Regions from separate parts of the Homo sapiens genome. Here region 2 is linked to region 1. A link means that fine-mapping ties the variant in region 1 to the expression of a gene that starts in the linked region. Tissue or cell type: whole blood. Region 1 holds a variant in brackets; the other region holds the start of a gene. All regions are shown on one strand. Distances are between the middles of the regions.

The links. PIP is the estimated chance that this variant, and not a neighbour inherited with it, causes the effect.
Region 2: it holds the start of TMA7B, and the variant in region 1 is the best candidate, but not a certain one, in a credible set for the expression of TMA7B in whole blood (TOPMed, PIP 0.76).

Annotation. Positions count from the first base shown.
Region 1 is chr22:39,927,705-39,935,870 of GRCh38, forward strand. The region is part of intron 1 of GRAP2 (GRB2 related adaptor protein 2); the gene reads left to right. Among named protein-coding and RNA genes, the nearest start is that of TMA7B, 29 kb to the right of the region's middle. RefSeq lists an enhancer at 5,208-5,872. The variant G/A (reference allele first, on the strand shown) is at 3,505.
Region 2 is chr22:39,955,799-39,963,964 of GRCh38, forward strand. TMA7B (translation machinery associated 7 homolog B) reads left to right here and starts at 4,599. Exons shown (of 2, transcript NM_001396013.1): 1 at 4,599-5,121; 2 at 8,122-8,166. GRAP2 (GRB2 related adaptor protein 2) reads left to right here. Exons shown (of 8, transcript NM_004810.4): 3 at 21-112; 4 at 4,257-4,376. RefSeq lists enhancers at 1,393-1,452, 3,245-3,746.

The DNA of each region.
Region 1 (8,166 bases):
CCATTTCCGGGGCCAAGTTCATTTCGGCTCTTTTCCACCATCCCCCGTGTGCTGCCCTGTCTCACCACTTGAGGGCTGAGGCCCCTTCCCAATGGCTACAACAGGGTAAGGGGACCCTGTCCTTCTGTCTCCTTCATCCTATAGTTTGTCTTCACAGCTGCAAATTGCTCTCAGGCCTGCCTTCCTGGATTTGACAAAAACTATTTTCTTACTGGTACTATGGATACCACAAGTGGAGATGTAAGTAGGAAGGTGCAGGTCCACAAATAAATAGGGAGCCCAGATGGGAGAAATGTCATTAGAGAGATCACTGTCCCTAAAGGCATCTGACCACCCATGTTCCTGCCTCTTTCTGCGACCATTTTCCTCCTTCGGCTGCTCAGAAATTGTCGAGGCCAAACTCCTTTCACCCAGATTCCAGAAATACACTTATTTCCTTTGCTTTCCAAATCTTAATGGATGAAACACCTCTTTTTTTTTGTCTTCTATCTCTTGCCAGAAATATTGTTTTTTGAGAACCAGAGCTCATTTATCTCCAAGGGAGAAAGAAATTCATTCCATGTTTACCCATTAACAAATTACCACTTACATGAAAATACTGGGACTTCTCTCATTCTTTGCTAATAAATGGGTTATTCACCTTGGTTGAACCATGGCAGAGGCAGATGGATAGCCACTATTCCCTTCAAGTTGGCTTAATATTCTCTCGTTGGCTTTTGTCTCCTTGAAGCACAGAGATTTCTCAGAGCTTTCTTTGCTTGATTCTGCTTTTAAGGAACGTGCCCAACTTATTTGAGTCTGTTTGTTTAGTAAGCTGAATTGATTAAATCCCTGGCATTTATGGAGGAGCCTACTGTGTTGGGTGCTATGGGTTCCTCCCCACTTGAAAGTTGAATTGGAGTCACCCATCTGAATACTAACTCCCTCCTAATCCATTGGTTTTCCTGCTGTGTAGACAGGGGTATGAAGTAGCCATTTACCAAGAGATAGTGCGATGTCATAAACCGAACATGAGTTCTAAAGTTAGCAAGACCTGGTTTGTACAGTAGTGCAGGCTTGGGCACGTTGCTGCTCTCTTTTGAGTCACACATTCCTCATTATAGATGCTGATGGGAACAACAGAGCTGTCTGTTCATCTTTGCTCTTCTCCATAATGAGATAAAGCCAAACAGACAGTGAAGAGCCTGGTCTAACCACATAACGTTGGTGCAAATTATATATGGTCATAAGAAGGTAATTTTTACCTGAGCATTTAGGTGGCATTTGGTGTGGTATTTGATGCATGTCATTTAGTTACAGAGATAAAACCTCCTGAACACACATAAAGCTCTTGGCCTGGTTGAACATTACATCTCACAGATTTTTATGTTTTTTACTAAGGATACTTCCTGCTAGGAAGTTGTAAAAGAGAAGATGGAAGTCTTTTTAATGGTATTGTAGCAATATCAGTTTCCTAGCTTTGATACTGTACTATGGTGATGTAAGATGTCCCCATTAGGGGAAGTGGGGTGAAGAGTACAGGGGACCTCTGTACTATTTTTGCAATTTCCTGAGAGACAGAGGGAAAGAGAGAAAGAGAGAGAGAGAGGAGGGAATGAGTGGAGTGACATGAAAAAGGAGTGTTCATCTTGGCTTATGTCCCTGGCTGGACAAATATTTACATTTTGTTTGCCTCTTTGTATAGATTTTGTGAATAGTCATGGTTAAAAGCTAGCATTCCCTTTTCTGTGGAAGAGAAGAAAGATAATAGAATGAGCTGAGAATCCCTGCCAACATTATATTAGAAAGCCACCTACTTCCTGCCTCTCCTCACCCTCCTTACCTATACAAACTTACCTTCTGCATCTTTGTCCTCCTTCTTTCCCATTCAAAGGGGAGATGCGTCTCCTGCTGAACAAATGAACTCCTCCGCATGACCAAGGTGTCCCATCCCTCCCTGCTGTCTCCAAAGGTTCAGTCCTGCTACATAATCTCTCTAGGTGAATTCCTTCTTACTCAGGGTTTTCACAATCATCTATATTGGAATAGCACCCAAATTAATAGCTCTACCCAGACTTTTTTATTGAGTTCTATACCTGCATAGCCAATCCTTGACTGGGAGTCTCTACATAGATCATTCACAAGCATTTCAAACACCCCTTTAATTATCTCCTCTTTCTGTATTCCCTTATCTCAGAAAATGCTACCAACATCTACCCTAATGCCCCCAGCAGGAACTCAAGAGTCGTTCTAGACCTATGCTGTCCCAAGTACTTCAATGTGGCTTGTCCAAATTGAAATGTGCTGTAAGTGTAAAATACACACCAGATTTCAAAGACTTAGTTTGGAAAAAATAATGCAAAGTATCTCAATAATATTTTATATTGATTTCAAATTGAAATGATAATATTTTGGACATATTGGGTTAAATAAGTTATTAAAAATAATTTTCTTTTACTTTTTAAAGTGCCACCAAAATATTTAAAATGGCATAATGGCTGGCATTTGTGACTTGCATTCTATTTCTATTGGATAACACCATTCTAGACTCTTTTCTGTCTTTTAGCCCCCTTCCAACTGGTCATAATTCACAGTGATTCCCTTGAGTTAAGACAAGGGAGAATACTGTTTAAGTGCACAGGCTGAGTTTGAATCCTGGCTCCACCATTTTTTGATACATATGAACTTGGGTGATTATTTAACCCCTTTGAGCTTCACTTTCCTCATCTGTCAGCTGGATACAATAGCAGTTCTTATTTTGAGATTCTTGCATGCTTTAAATGAGATAATGTGTAAAGTACTTACTATGGAGATAAAAACATGTGGAAAGACCCAGTGTCAAAAGAAAGAGCATGATCTGTCACTGTTGTAGTTCAGGCCCTCATCATTACTAGCCAAGACTACTGCGATGCTTTCTCCATCTTCGGTTCACCCTGCCCTCCATTCCTTCATACTGCCATCTGATTAAACATTCCTGAATGCAAATGTTTTCAAATGTCCAATGACTTCCCATCATCCTTGGTATGAAGTCCTAAGTCCCTGGCATGCTTTCAATGTCCTCCATGATCTGCCCCCAGTCCAATCACTGATCCCATCTCCTGCCAGTCCATGATTGAACCAGTTGGGTCCCCAACTCCTATTTGCACACACCATTCTCTCTGTGTGTCATATATGAGCTCTCTACTCTGCCTAGCTACTTGTCTGCAAGACTCAGTTCAATTGTCACCTCATTTGGGAAGCTTCCACTAATCCCTCCTGCACCTGTCTCCGTCCTAGGCTAGATTAGGAGCCTGCCCTTTGGGTTCCTGAACCACTTGAGGTGTGGTTCCTTTATCATGCTGATCTCACTGGTTTGGCTGACTTGTTTTTCCTACAAGACTGAACTGTCTGAGGTCTTAAGATGGGCTGTCTAGTCCACACTGGATCTTCATGCTCTACACAGGGCTTGACACAGAGTGGGGCACAGGAAATGTTTGTTGAACGAATACACAAAGCATATGGATACTCCTGAGAGAGAGAAGGTGG[G/A]CAAGACAGCCTTGTGAAGTTAAGCAGCAGAAAATCTGAAAACGAACCTGGATAGAAATCACCAATTCCTGGAAGTACAGAGAGAGGAAGGAGAGAGAAGAATCTGTGCAAGGAGTCAGTAATGGAGGACTTGAAATGAAAGGCTATTAAAGAGAGAAGATCATTCAAACAACAGAACCACATTTGGTACTGTTGGTGGTTTTGTAACTTCCTCTGAAATGGTTCCAGGAAGAGACAAGGTTCTAGGATGGTGCAAATCATATAAAGAAAGGATGGGGTATTATAAGCCAATTCAAGGATTATTTGTCATCAGGACTAGATACATGGGTGGTACAAGTAAATGTCAACCTGATGACTACACGATGGGACTAGTAATAATTTACTGGGGCTGGTGCCCAGGAAATTTTTTGCTGTGGTGCAGATGCCAAGCATGGAAAAATTTGACGAGTTATAGGCATGAGAAAGTAGATGGCGAATTTGAGAGTAACAATGTAAAATGCCAGAGTAATCACAAGAGAAATGTCTGAATATGTAAGAGAGTTTAGAAGATTTCTGCTTTACCACAAATACGGACTTCAAGAAAAATTCCCTTATAAGAACAGAAATTCCAATATATAAAACTTATTTATCAAAACACACAGTATTCCATAATATATAATGGTAAAAGCATGCCTTTTGACCCACACAATATTAAAAGCAGCAAATAACACAAGAAAGGTAGAGAAAACAGAAGGTACAACATTTTGTGGCTCACAGGATATATGAGTGAGATTATATACTTCTATTCCAAACCACAACCTTCACTAGAACATCTAAAGGCTTCATTCTAGAACCTTCATACTGCTTATCCCAAAGGCTAGCCCACTCCCCGGTTTTCATGTAAGAAATCTTGTGGGACAGGCGTTGCATGAGGTGAGGGGCAGCAGGGAAATTCGAGATGAAAGGGTGAAAAGATCAAACGAGTCCTTGCTATTCTTCTTAACAATGCTTCAGTCCACCACTTTGAGATTTCTGTGGAGAAAGTAAAGATTTGGGATATACATATACTAAAACAACTATTGGTTGCTTATCTGAAAATTAACTTTAGCTGGGCATTCTGTATTTTATCTGACAACCCTACTTGGTGAGGTGTACATTTTCTTATTCATACTTCCTGCGAGCCACAACATGTCTTAATAGTTGTTAGCTATTAAGGACTATGCATAAAAGTGACAATAGCTGGCTGGGCACAGTGGCTCATGCCTTTAATCCCAGCACTTTGGGAGGCTGAGGCAGGAGGATCACTTGAGGCCAGGAGTTCAAGATCAGCCTGAGCAACATAGGGAGACCCCTGTCTCTACAAAAAAAAAAAAAAAAAAAAAAAGCTGGATGTGGTGGCATGCACCTGTAGTCCCAGCTATTTGGGAGGCTGAGACAGGAGAATCACTTGAACCTGGGAGTTGGAGGCTGCAGTGAGCCCTGATTGCCTCACTGCACTCCAGCCTGGGCCACAGAATGATACCTGTCTCAAAAAAAAAAAAAAAAAGTAGCAATAGCTAACAACTATTGAATTATTGAGTGCCTACTATGTGCCAGACACCATACTAAGTGGATTAGATGGATATTCCACATATTCTTCCCAAGAACATTATGAGGCAGGCACTATTATCATCCCTGTTTTTAAAATGAGGAAACTGAGGCTCAGAGATGTTAAATAACTTGCTAAGGGTCACTCAGAAAACTAGTAGTAGAGAAGGGTTTGAATGCTGGCAGCCTGACTCCAAGGCTCATGTGCTTGCCTACCTTACCCAGATGGCGGCAGCACTGAGCAAGGGGTAGATAACTTCAAGTCCCCTGGAAGAATAAGAGAAAGTGAGACCATGGGGTATGAGGGGGGCAGGCCCTGAGTAAAGCTTTAAAGGAGCAGTTGAAATTAGACCCGGTGCCTTTGTTTAAGTAAGAAGAATGTGCTAGTTCTAAACAGATGCAGCCCCATACTGGGACTCACAGCTTGATGAGAAGCGCACTGGATGCATTTCAGCCCTTACTGCAACCTCAGCCTGAGGCCTTTATGCAGTGAGCAACCTGCACAACCATACATAGCAATGTGAGTTTGATGGGAGAAGGAAGACCAGTGCAGAGACAAGGATGTCGATGGAGTGCTTAGAGAACAAAGGGAAGCTATTTACTAAAGCATGTTTGCATGGTGCAGGTGATTTTCTAAAGTTAATTTTGACAGACAGGATGGGGAAAGATTGTTGAAGGCCTGAAATGACAAGAGAGACTTGAGTGGATCTGGGAGGTCATGTGACAAACATGACATTAACAAATTCTAAATGGAAAAAATGACCCTCAGAAAGTTGTGTGTCAAGGCCGGGTATGGTGGCTCACGTCTGTAATTCCAGCACTTTCGGAGGCCAAGGCAGGTGGATCATTAGAGGTCAGGAATTCAAGATGAGCCTGGCCAACATGGTGAAACTCCATCTCTAGTAAAAATACAAAAATTAGCCAGGCGTGGTGGCGGGCACCTGTAATCCCAGCTCCTCAGGAGGCTGAGGCAGGAGAATCTCTTGAGCCTGGGAGGCGAATGTTTCAGTGAGCCAAGATTGCGCCACTGCACTCCAACCTGAGCAACAGAGCGAGACCCTGTCTCGAAAAAAAAAAAAAGAAAAGAAAGAAAGTTGTGTGTCAAAAGCTTCAACACACAGGGGCCTTTGCTCTGTCAAGCAAGGAGAATAGGGTGGAGGAGGAACAGGAACACAGTAGCTAAGGTGACAGCTGCCTCACAAAAGGAAAGTCTATGGCTTGCAAAAGAGGTCGAGGAAAGCGGAAAAGCAATTGCCGAAGAGGGACAGTAAGTGAAAAGATGAGTTTCTTCCACTTGGCATCTCCCCAAATATGGCCCTGAAGGAAGAGTTGACCCTGTTACGGTTTCTTTCTTTTTCCTGTGGGGTTATTAGAGTGACATATAAGAAAAGGGCCACAGGCACGGCACAGCTTGATTTCAGCCAGGCTTTGCATGACACCCTACAGAGCAGAATGAGGACAGATAGGCTGAAGGATAACTACTTAACTGGGTAGGTTTCAAGTTGATACTCAGAGTGTTGATTAAAGGGTGGTCAATGACAACCTGGAGGAGGTCTTTAGGTAAAGAAACTGAGTTCAAAGATAACCAACTTGCATGAATGAAGGAGCCAGGATTTGAACCCAGCCCTACCTGATTCAAAAGTCCATTTTCCATTTATTATAAAACAAAAACCAAAAAGGCATGAAGTTCACTTATGAAAGAAGAGTTGAAAGATATAACCAGAGGGTTAGGAGTACAAATCCATGCCCGAATGAATTGTGATAGGCTGAGAAATTGGCCAAAGGGGGAGAACAAAAACACAGTGAAAGTCAGAAAGGTTAAATGTGAAGCCCTGCATTTTGGTTTCAAGAAACCCGTTGCAGAGGTGGAGAGGTCCAGCTTGACCATCTTCATGTTGGGAAGCACCCGGGCTTTTGTTGTAGTTATTGTTGCTTAATTCCCAAACAGCAGCGGGGTGTGGGGGCACACGATTGTAGCCCCAGCTACTCGGGAAGCTGAGGCAGGAGGATGCCTAAAGCCCCGGAGGTCAAGGCTACAGTGACCCATGATCACGCCACTGCACTCCAGCCTGGGCAACAGAACAAGACCCTATCTAAAAAAAAACAAAAGAAAACAAAAAACCAGCCAACAGTGTAACACAATTACAAAATCTTCATGTACAAATGAAGTGATTAAATCATCCTATTCTACTCAGCCCAGCTCAGACCATATCTTGAATACTGGGTTCAAGTCTAGATAATGTATTTTGTATTTTGAGAAAAATATTGAATAACTGACAGGAGACCTGAGGAAAATGACCAGGAGATCAAGAGTTGGAACCTTGTCACATGAAGGGTGGTCAAGGACTCTGGGGTTATTTCAGCTTAGAAATGGGAATTTGGGATTTGTGATTCTCATTTTCTGTTTCTTTTGTTCGTTCATTCTTTCTTTCATTCTTTCTTTTTCTTTCTTGTTGTGGTTCTTAGCACAGAATTCAGATGAAAGAGCTTTTGATTCAACGTAAACAATTCACCAAGCTGTCAGCTCACTCCAATCCCAGCCGTCCCCGATGCCCATTGTCTATCATCTCAATGAATTAGGGAAAAAGACTGACTTTCTGGGCCACTTCCAACTTTGAGAATCTAGGATAGGGGCACTATTTAATCAAAACTGGCAAGTAAAAAGAAAGAGAACTATTTTAAACAAGACAAATACAAGAGGTGTTGAACCAAACTCAAATTAGAAAGAACAAAATTTCCCAAAAATAAGAATATTATAATTCATTTGATGAAAGGAATTTGCCATATTATCCCTTTTACTGGCATTTTTTTAGTACCTTTACTTGTAAAAATGTCAGGCCCTCCCACTTTTCTGGGATAGACTTATCGAATGAAGCAAGGGGAGCTTCTCTATGGATAGATGATCACTTTTGCAAGCTTTGAGATCAGTGAGCTGAAAAAATGACCAGCATTCCAACAACAAATGAGGGCTTGGGAGCGTAAGTAAAAGTGACAGCAAGATTAAAGTAATTGTGGTCATGCCGTCCTCTGCTGACACTTTTGTGTTTTGCCCAGATGAGAATTAAGGTAGCCCAGGGCACAGGCAGTGAGGAAAAG
Region 2 (8,166 bases), 28 kb after region 1:
TTTCCTTTTCTTCCATGTAGATTTTAAGTAACCAAGAGGAGTGGTTTAAGGCGGAGCTTGGGAGCCAGGAAGGATATGTGCCCAAGAATTTCATAGACATCCAGTTTCCCAAGTAAGTATCTGCAGCCTGCTGAGATGGGCCTAGCCACACACACTCCTCTTACATTTCCAGCAGTCACTACAGTTATCCATGGGAACCCAAGACATTGTCAAAAATGGCTGCCTCTGGAGCTCTCTCCGGAGAGCCTCCAGAGCATGCAGCTGAAGGCCAGGGCAGGAGGGAGACTTTGCATTTCATTTCATTCCCTTTTGATGTTTACACCATGTGCATGTATTGCTATTTTAAGTTGTTCTTAACTTTTTTTTTTTTTTTTTGGGAGTTGGGGTCTCCCTCTGTCACCCAGGCTGGAGTGCGGTGACTCCATCACCACTCACTGCAGCCTAAAACTCCTGGGCTCAAGCCATCCTCTCACCTCAGCCTCCCAAGTAGCTGGGATTACAGGCACATGCCACCACGCCAGGCTAGTTTTTGTATTTTTAGTAGAGACAGGGTTTTACCATGTTGGCCAGGCTGGTCCCAAACTCCTGACCTCAAGTGATCTGCCGCCTCAGCCTCCCAAAGTGCTGGGATTACAGGCGTGAACCACCATGCCTGGCCTATTTTAAGTTTTGGGTTTTTTTGGGTTTTTTTATTCATGTGTTTATTTGTTTTGAGACAGAACCTTGCTCTGTTGCCCAGGCTGGAGTGCAGTGGCATGATCTCGGCTCATTGCAATTCTCCTGCCTCAGCCTCCCTAGTAGCTGGGATTACAGGTGCATGCCACCACACCCAGCTAACTTTTGTATTTTTAGTAGAGATGGGGTTTCACCATGATGGACAGGCTGGTCTCAAACTCTTGACCTCAGGTGATCCACCCGCCTCGGCCTCCCAAAGTGCTGGGATTACAGGTGTGAGCCACTGCACCCGGCCTATTTTAAGTTTTTATAAAATGAGTTTGTAAACTCAAATTATCTATAGTGATTTCAATCACGGCGTTCCCCAGAATTCCAAAGGGGACGCTATTGGCCACCCCACTTCGGGAGCTGCTCTCCTAAGCGCTTCTCTGTGACCTCCTAATCCTAACCATCCTCACCAGGCTCTCACCCTTCACTCAGTGGGTGGACAGACACTCCCTGCCTTCAGTAAAGCATGCTCACCCCAATGAGAGAAGTCAGCGGGGGGAAGGGGAAATTCTCTTCCTAAAGAGGAAATGAAAAATTGAGATTGGGCTTCGTTTGTCTCAAGAATTGACCACAAGGGTTAGATAGAAATCTAATCTTGCCTCAGAACCAGGGTCTAGCTCAAAGAGCAAAAGCTTGTTAGAAAACCACAGTAGTATTGGTGACTCCAGCAAGGTGCAAGAGCACCAGTCTTGGTAAACCTGAACTGACCACCAAACCAAGAGAATGACCACTGACCTTGACGGAACCCTTGATGCTGCCCAGGAATCTGCTAGGTGACCTCTGCATACCCCACGTGCTCCTCAAACCTTCAGCCCCTCCGTGCATCACTCTTAGCCCGTGACCTTGATTCCAGGTTCTCTGGAACAATGAAAGCCACCAGAAGTGAAGCTCCCAGACCCCCCTCCCCCACCGCATCCACCTGCCTCCTGCAAGTGTGCTCAAACAGTCGGCCTTTCCTGCAGCTGGCTGGAAGGAACTGTCACTGCTTCTAGCAGAAATTCTCCTCTCTCTCTCTTCCACGTCAACCTCCTTTCCCTCTCTGCTGGATCATTCCTGTCAGCAAACACACACGCTGCAATTTCTCCCAACTTACCAAAACACAAACAAACAAAACCAAACCCAGAGGCCAGGTGGGTTTTGTTGTGGCTGATGCCTGTAATCCCAGTCCTTTGAGAGGCTGAGGGAGGAGGATCACTTGTGGCTAGGAGTTTGAGACCAGCCTGGGCAACATAGCGAGCCCCATCTCTACAAAAAATTTTTAAAAATTAGCTGGTCGTGGTGGCATGCGCCTATAGTCCCAGCTGCTTGGGAGGCTGAGGCAGGAGGATCGCTTGAGCCTGGGAGTTCAAGGCTGTGGTGGACCATGATTATATCACTGCACTCCAGCCTGGGCAGCAGAGAGAGACTCTGTTTCAAAGAAAAAAAAAATTTAAATAAATAAATAAATCAAGAAAATTCTTAATCCCAAATCCCCTTCCACTTGCCACTCCATCTCTTCAAAAGGAGTGTGTGCATTTGCTACTTCCAACTCCTCATCTCCCGACCCTTCCCACCAGGCTCCCCATGGGCTGTAGCTCCCAGGGGTCATCTCAGCATGACCTGCCCTGGGGATCCCCCCTCCCACTGGAACACCTCTTTCATTTTGGCTCCAGGACGTCCTTCCTCCGGTTGTCCTCCCACTGCCCTGGCTTCTCCTCCTCAGTCTCTTGTGTTGGTTCCTCCCACTCCCCAGTCCCCTATAGGTTTAGAATGTCTCCTTTTCAGTGAGGTCTTTCTCATCACCATACCTTACATTAATCTCCCACCCACAGCGCCCCATCTCTCCTCTCAGTTTTCATGTTCTCCACAGCACTTACCATCATCTGGCACGCTTCAGATCTTAATTATTTTGTTCTTTTGTGTGTGTCCCCCTCGACTAGAATGTAAGCTCCCTGAGGGCAGGGGTGTGTGTCTGTTCTGCCCACTACTGTGTCCCCAGTGCCCAGGAGGGGCCCAGCACAGTACTAGATGTTCAGTAAAGCTGTTGAATGAATGAATGAATGAATGAACGAACGAATATGTATTATTGAAACCATGACCACTCATGTCTAATATGCAATGTGTGGTGATTTTTACAAATCTTTAAAGAAGCCCCCTATCAGATTGCAGTCAGAGGACAAATGTGTATTTCCTAAATCCCCTTCACTTCTGAAATGTTTCCTTTGCGATATGGCTGCTGTGGTGCATACTCCATTCCTCTTCCCATCCCCATTACATTTCCCACACGTGGCAGTGGTGTGTGTGGTGGCCTCTTGTTTAGCCCTGTAGAATTGTGTGGCAAATACTCAGGCAGAATCTCCAGGCCACCAGAAACTGCTGCTTTCAGCCCTCTCAGAGCACAGCCAAACTTCCCCCTCAGTCCCAGTGGGGGACTCAGTCTCCAGTAAGTACATCCTTCCTGCTACCTATGTCTCAGTTTCCCAAATTCTAGAAAGCACAGAGAATTGCTCACAAAGGAATCCAAAGCCAAGGCCTGACGGGCTTTTATCTTAAAGGAACATGCGTATGAGCCTTCTGGTGACAGCAATTAGAGCAGCCACCTTGAAGCAATGTGACACAGTCCCACCTTTGGCCGCTGAGTGATTGCAGACACTCATTTTGCTTGTCTGTGGTGGAGAGAGGTCTCTGGCCTCCTGCTTTGAGGCTGCAGCCACAGCTTGCCTGGCCCTGTGTAAGTGTTTGACCTATTTCATACATGCCACGCTGTATGCAGCTGTACCTCCAGGGGCTGCCACCCTGACCATTCTGCTAAAAGAGTAATTTCTCCTGTTTCTTCTTTTCCACAGTAAAGATTATTTCCCAGCCTGGATTTTTGGGGCAGGCCCAGGATCTGGTTGTATAGACGCCGCTCTCTGGCGGCTGCCAGCCTCGCTGATTTCCAAGCATGTACACTGGACTCCCTAGGAACACTGCAGCCTCTGCTAGGCACACTGAGCAAAGCCCCCTTGTGCTCCATGCCAGCCTAGGTAACGTGACGCCCTGGGCTGTAACTTTCCTTTAATACCCAGGGAGGAACCTCTAGGCCACTGAGACCTCAGGGCAGGCATGAGCACCCCAGGCCCTGCTCAGCCGGCTGCACCTGGTTGGCTCCAGTGCCTGAAGCCTTCCCTTCCCTCCCCAGTGCATCCTCTGTCCTCGCAGCTCTGGTCTATCTCTTCCGCAGCTGCCGGCAGGCGGCTGCTTCCTGCAGTGAGTCACTCCCACACTGCCCCATTTTGGTGCAGCGACACATTTCCATGATTCGTTTCCCAGGCTGGAGAGAGACTTCTCCTGGAGAGAAGGAACAAAGAGGGTGAATCAAGGGGAATGCTCCCTCGCCTTTCCTGAAAGCTGCCTGGAGCACTGGTTTGATTTCAAACAGCACCTGGTCTCTCTCTGCTCCCTACTGTACAGAGTCCCCAGCCTCTTTCCCTCTGGGTCACCTCTTCTCCACGTCTCCCTCTTGTCACTCCTGTGTCTCATCCTGATCCTTTTGTTTGATCTCGCCCCCACAGATGGTTTCACGAAGGCCTCTCTCGACACCAGGCAGAGAACTTACTCATGGGCAAGGAGGTTGGCTTCTTCATCATCCGGGCCAGCCAGAGCTCCCCAGGGGACTTCTCCATCTCTGTCAGGTACTGACCATTCCTGACACTGCCTTGGCCCTTCTCGGCCTGTTAACCTCACAGAATGCTGAAGCCATGAAGGGACCTCTGGAATATGACCCAATGGTCAGAAGCATGGTGGCCTAGGGGCCAAGCATGGCAGCAGCTTCACAACCTGCTGCTCCCAGTGCCTTCCCAAAACATGCACACACCACTCTTTAGAACACTGGTGTGTGTTTGAAATTATTTCTACGCCCATCTGCCTCCCCTTCTAGCCCAGGTGCTTCTGGAAGGGCAGGATTTTCCTCTACTTCATCTTTATGCCTTTAACAGTGTCTTGCATAAAAGAGAGACACTCAGTGAGTATTTGTGGAAGGAAGGAGGGATAGGAGGAGGAGAACTCCCACTTGTCCAGATCCATCTGGGGGTTTAAATCTTAACCTTTTCTTTTATGATTGATGCATATCTGAAGAAGAGTCAGAGAAAAATAGAAATCTCAAGTCACTGCTGTAGGATATACAGGGGCGGAAAAGTTGTGGCACCTTTCTTTGCCCATCAGAGGAGTCACAGCTGACACTCCTACAAGACAGGTTAACAAGAGGAGAGTGGACACATTTATTTAATCAAAGACTTGTGTGACACAGAAGCCTTCAGAAATGAAGACCCAAGACCCAGGGAAAGCCGTCTATTTTTATGCTTAGGTTTGTCAAAGGACAGACAGCCCTGTAGAAATGGGATTGGACAAAGGGGGTTTGATCTAAGGTAACAGACTGAGGTAGGAAACTGAACAAGGCCTGTCCCAAGTCTTCTTTTTTTTTTTTTTTTTTGGAGACAGCTGTTGCCCAGGCTGGAGTGCAGTGACGCAATCATTGCTCACCACAGCCTCTGTGTCCCAGGCTCAAGCCATCTTCCCACCTCAGCCTCTCAAGTAGCTGGGGATACAGGTGCACACCACCACACCTGGCTAATATTTTTTTAACTTATTTCTTTGTAGAGACTAGGTCTTACTGTGTTGCCTGGGCTGATCTCAAACTCCTGGCCTCGAGTAATCCTCCTGCCTTGGCCTCCCCCATAGTGACCCTTCTAGTCTCTCTGACCCACTGTGGGGAAGAGGAATTCTAATTTCTATGACTCACTCAGGGGGAGAAAGAGGAGCGGGAGACAGGAGGGCAGGAGAAGGCCAAAGGAAGACTTTGCTTCCAAGGCTGCTTCTGAAACCTTCCCATCTCCTTTGGTTCGAAGCACTCAGCATGCCAAGGGGTGTCGTTTTCTGAGCCCCAACAAATACATGTATAGTTGTAGGCAGCTGAACAAAAAGAAAGGCTACTTCAACACAGTACAGTACAGCAAGACCGAAAACCACAGAACAGAGGGCCAGGAGTGGGGGAGGACTGTAACAGCGAAATCTCACTAAGGTGCAGCAACCCATAGGAAGTGACTCAGTCCACGCGTAGACATTACACAGCCCCAAACTCAGAAGCCCAGTTCGGAACACACTGTGTGTGGTCAGCATGTTGAGGATCGCAAGTCACGTATCAGACTTCACCACATGTGAAACTGCAAGAATATAATGCTGTTAGCAGATCAGGAGAAGTACAGCAAAACCTTACTGTCAAGTTATTGGCAGGAAATACCGATCTGGTTTATTCAATATATTTTGAAAGGCATAAAGCTTTGTTTTAAGGACAGAAATCCAATCTCAAGTAATAAACTGTGGCCACTTTGCTGTTTAGAAAGAATGGATATTTGAAAGGATAGGTAGGAAGGACTTAAAAATAACAGGTCAACAATTTGTATGCATACATACCTTTAAAGTGGTCTCTTTAGCATTGCCCTTGCAATCTTGCTTAAACTCTTTTCTTCAGTAAAAACTTTATTTTCATAGCTTGGAGAATGGTTAACTTTAGTTCAGGCCAATATTGATGTATCACAAATTCTAATCTTGTTAGGTCTTAATTAATGAAATTTCGCTCCATTAACATATATTACAAGTCAGGGTCGGGCGCCGTGGCTCATGCCTCTAATCCCAGCACTTTGGGAGGCTGAGTTGGGAGGAATGCTTTAAGCCAAGGAGTTGGAGACCAGCCGGGGCAACTAGTGAGACCTCATCTCTACTAAAAATAAAAAATTAACCCAGTGCAGTGGCGCATGCCTGTGGTCCCAACTACTTGGGAGGCTGAAGTTAAAGGATTGTTGGAGCTGGGCGGTTGAGGTTGCAGTGAGCCAAGATCGATCGCACCACTGCACTCTAGCCTGGGTGACAGAGCAAGACCCTGTCTCAAGAGAAAAAAATTATTTACATATATTATATACATATATTATTAGAAAAAACAATTATACATATATTTAACATGCGTGTATATATATTACAAGTCAAATCTATTTCTTAAGCCTCCCCTCTTTACCCCATCATAAACTTGACCAAGTAATTTGTTAGACTGAGGGGTATCTCTTGGGCCTTTGGTTTGCATGAAGATGACTCTGGCTTTTTCAGCTAGAAACTATGGTTTTTGTGGTTTCGTTGGTTTTTTGAGACAGACTCTCGCTCTGTCGCCCAGGCTGGAGTGCAGTGGCGCAATCTCGGCTCCCTGCAACCTCCGCCTCCCAGGTTCAAAGCAATTCTCGTGCCTTGGCCTCCTGAGTAGCTGGGACCATGGGTTCGCACCACCACGCCTGGCTAATTTGTGTGTGTGTGGTTTTTTTCAGTAGAGACGGGGTTTCGTCATGTTGGCCAGGCTGGTCTTGAACTCCTGGCCTCATGTAATCCACCCGCCTCAGCCTCCCAAAGTGCTAGGATTACAGGCGCGACCCACTGTGCCCGGACCCAGAACTATGGTTTATATTTCCTTAATTAAAGTGAGTTCTACAAAACAGTAGGCCTTGACTTCTACCGAAGTCTTCCCCTGATATTCAGGCGATGAAGCTTCTAGTTATGGTGACAATTACCGTAATCCTTATCACGTCTTTGCAGAAATGTAGTATAATATTTTCCAAAGCAAAATCATTATTAATTATTTTTACATCTGTCATGGGCACAGATAATTAAGAGCTAATTGTAGTTCTATCACTCAGCATTTGTTAAGGGCCTGAAACACCAGATTTTGGAGTCCAGCGCCCTGAGTCGCATCCTTTCCTTTGTTCCTCTTCAGGCTTGAGACAATGGTCAGGCCATCCTCTCCTTGTAGACCCAGATAACCAGCTGCAACCCTCACACCCATCCTTACAGCTTATGAGAGTAAAAGGGTCAATGTTTCACACTCTGAGTTCTTTGAGGTGGTGGATGAAAAATTATAATATCACAAGAATATTTTCTCCTCCTCACCTGGATGTGAAGGATAATGACTTTGAGTTGATCCATGTTGTCTTAGAATGAAGAAAGTATCTGTTGGTGGCCAAAACCAAGGGGAAGACCACAAAGTGATTGCAATATGTTGATTACCACCCGAAATCAGTCAAGCAAGAGGCCACTTGTACAACCTGTGGCTTCACCCAGCTATGAGCAAATCCCAGCACATAAGATGAGATTGAGGGTCAGAATTTCCATCTCCTTCTTAACACAGGTCCCTAAATCCATCCCTAAGAAACCTCCATGGTCAGGCGCAGTGGCTCACGCCTGTAATCCCAGCACTTTGGGAGGCTGAGGTGGGCGGATCATGAGGTCAGGAGATCGAGACCATCCTGTCTAACACGATGAAACCCCGTCTCTACTAAAAATACAAAACTTAGCCGGGCGTGGTGGCGGGCGCCTGTAGTCCCAGCTACTTGGGAGGCTGAGGCAGGAGAATGGCATGAACCTGGGAGGTGGTGCTTGCAGTGAGCA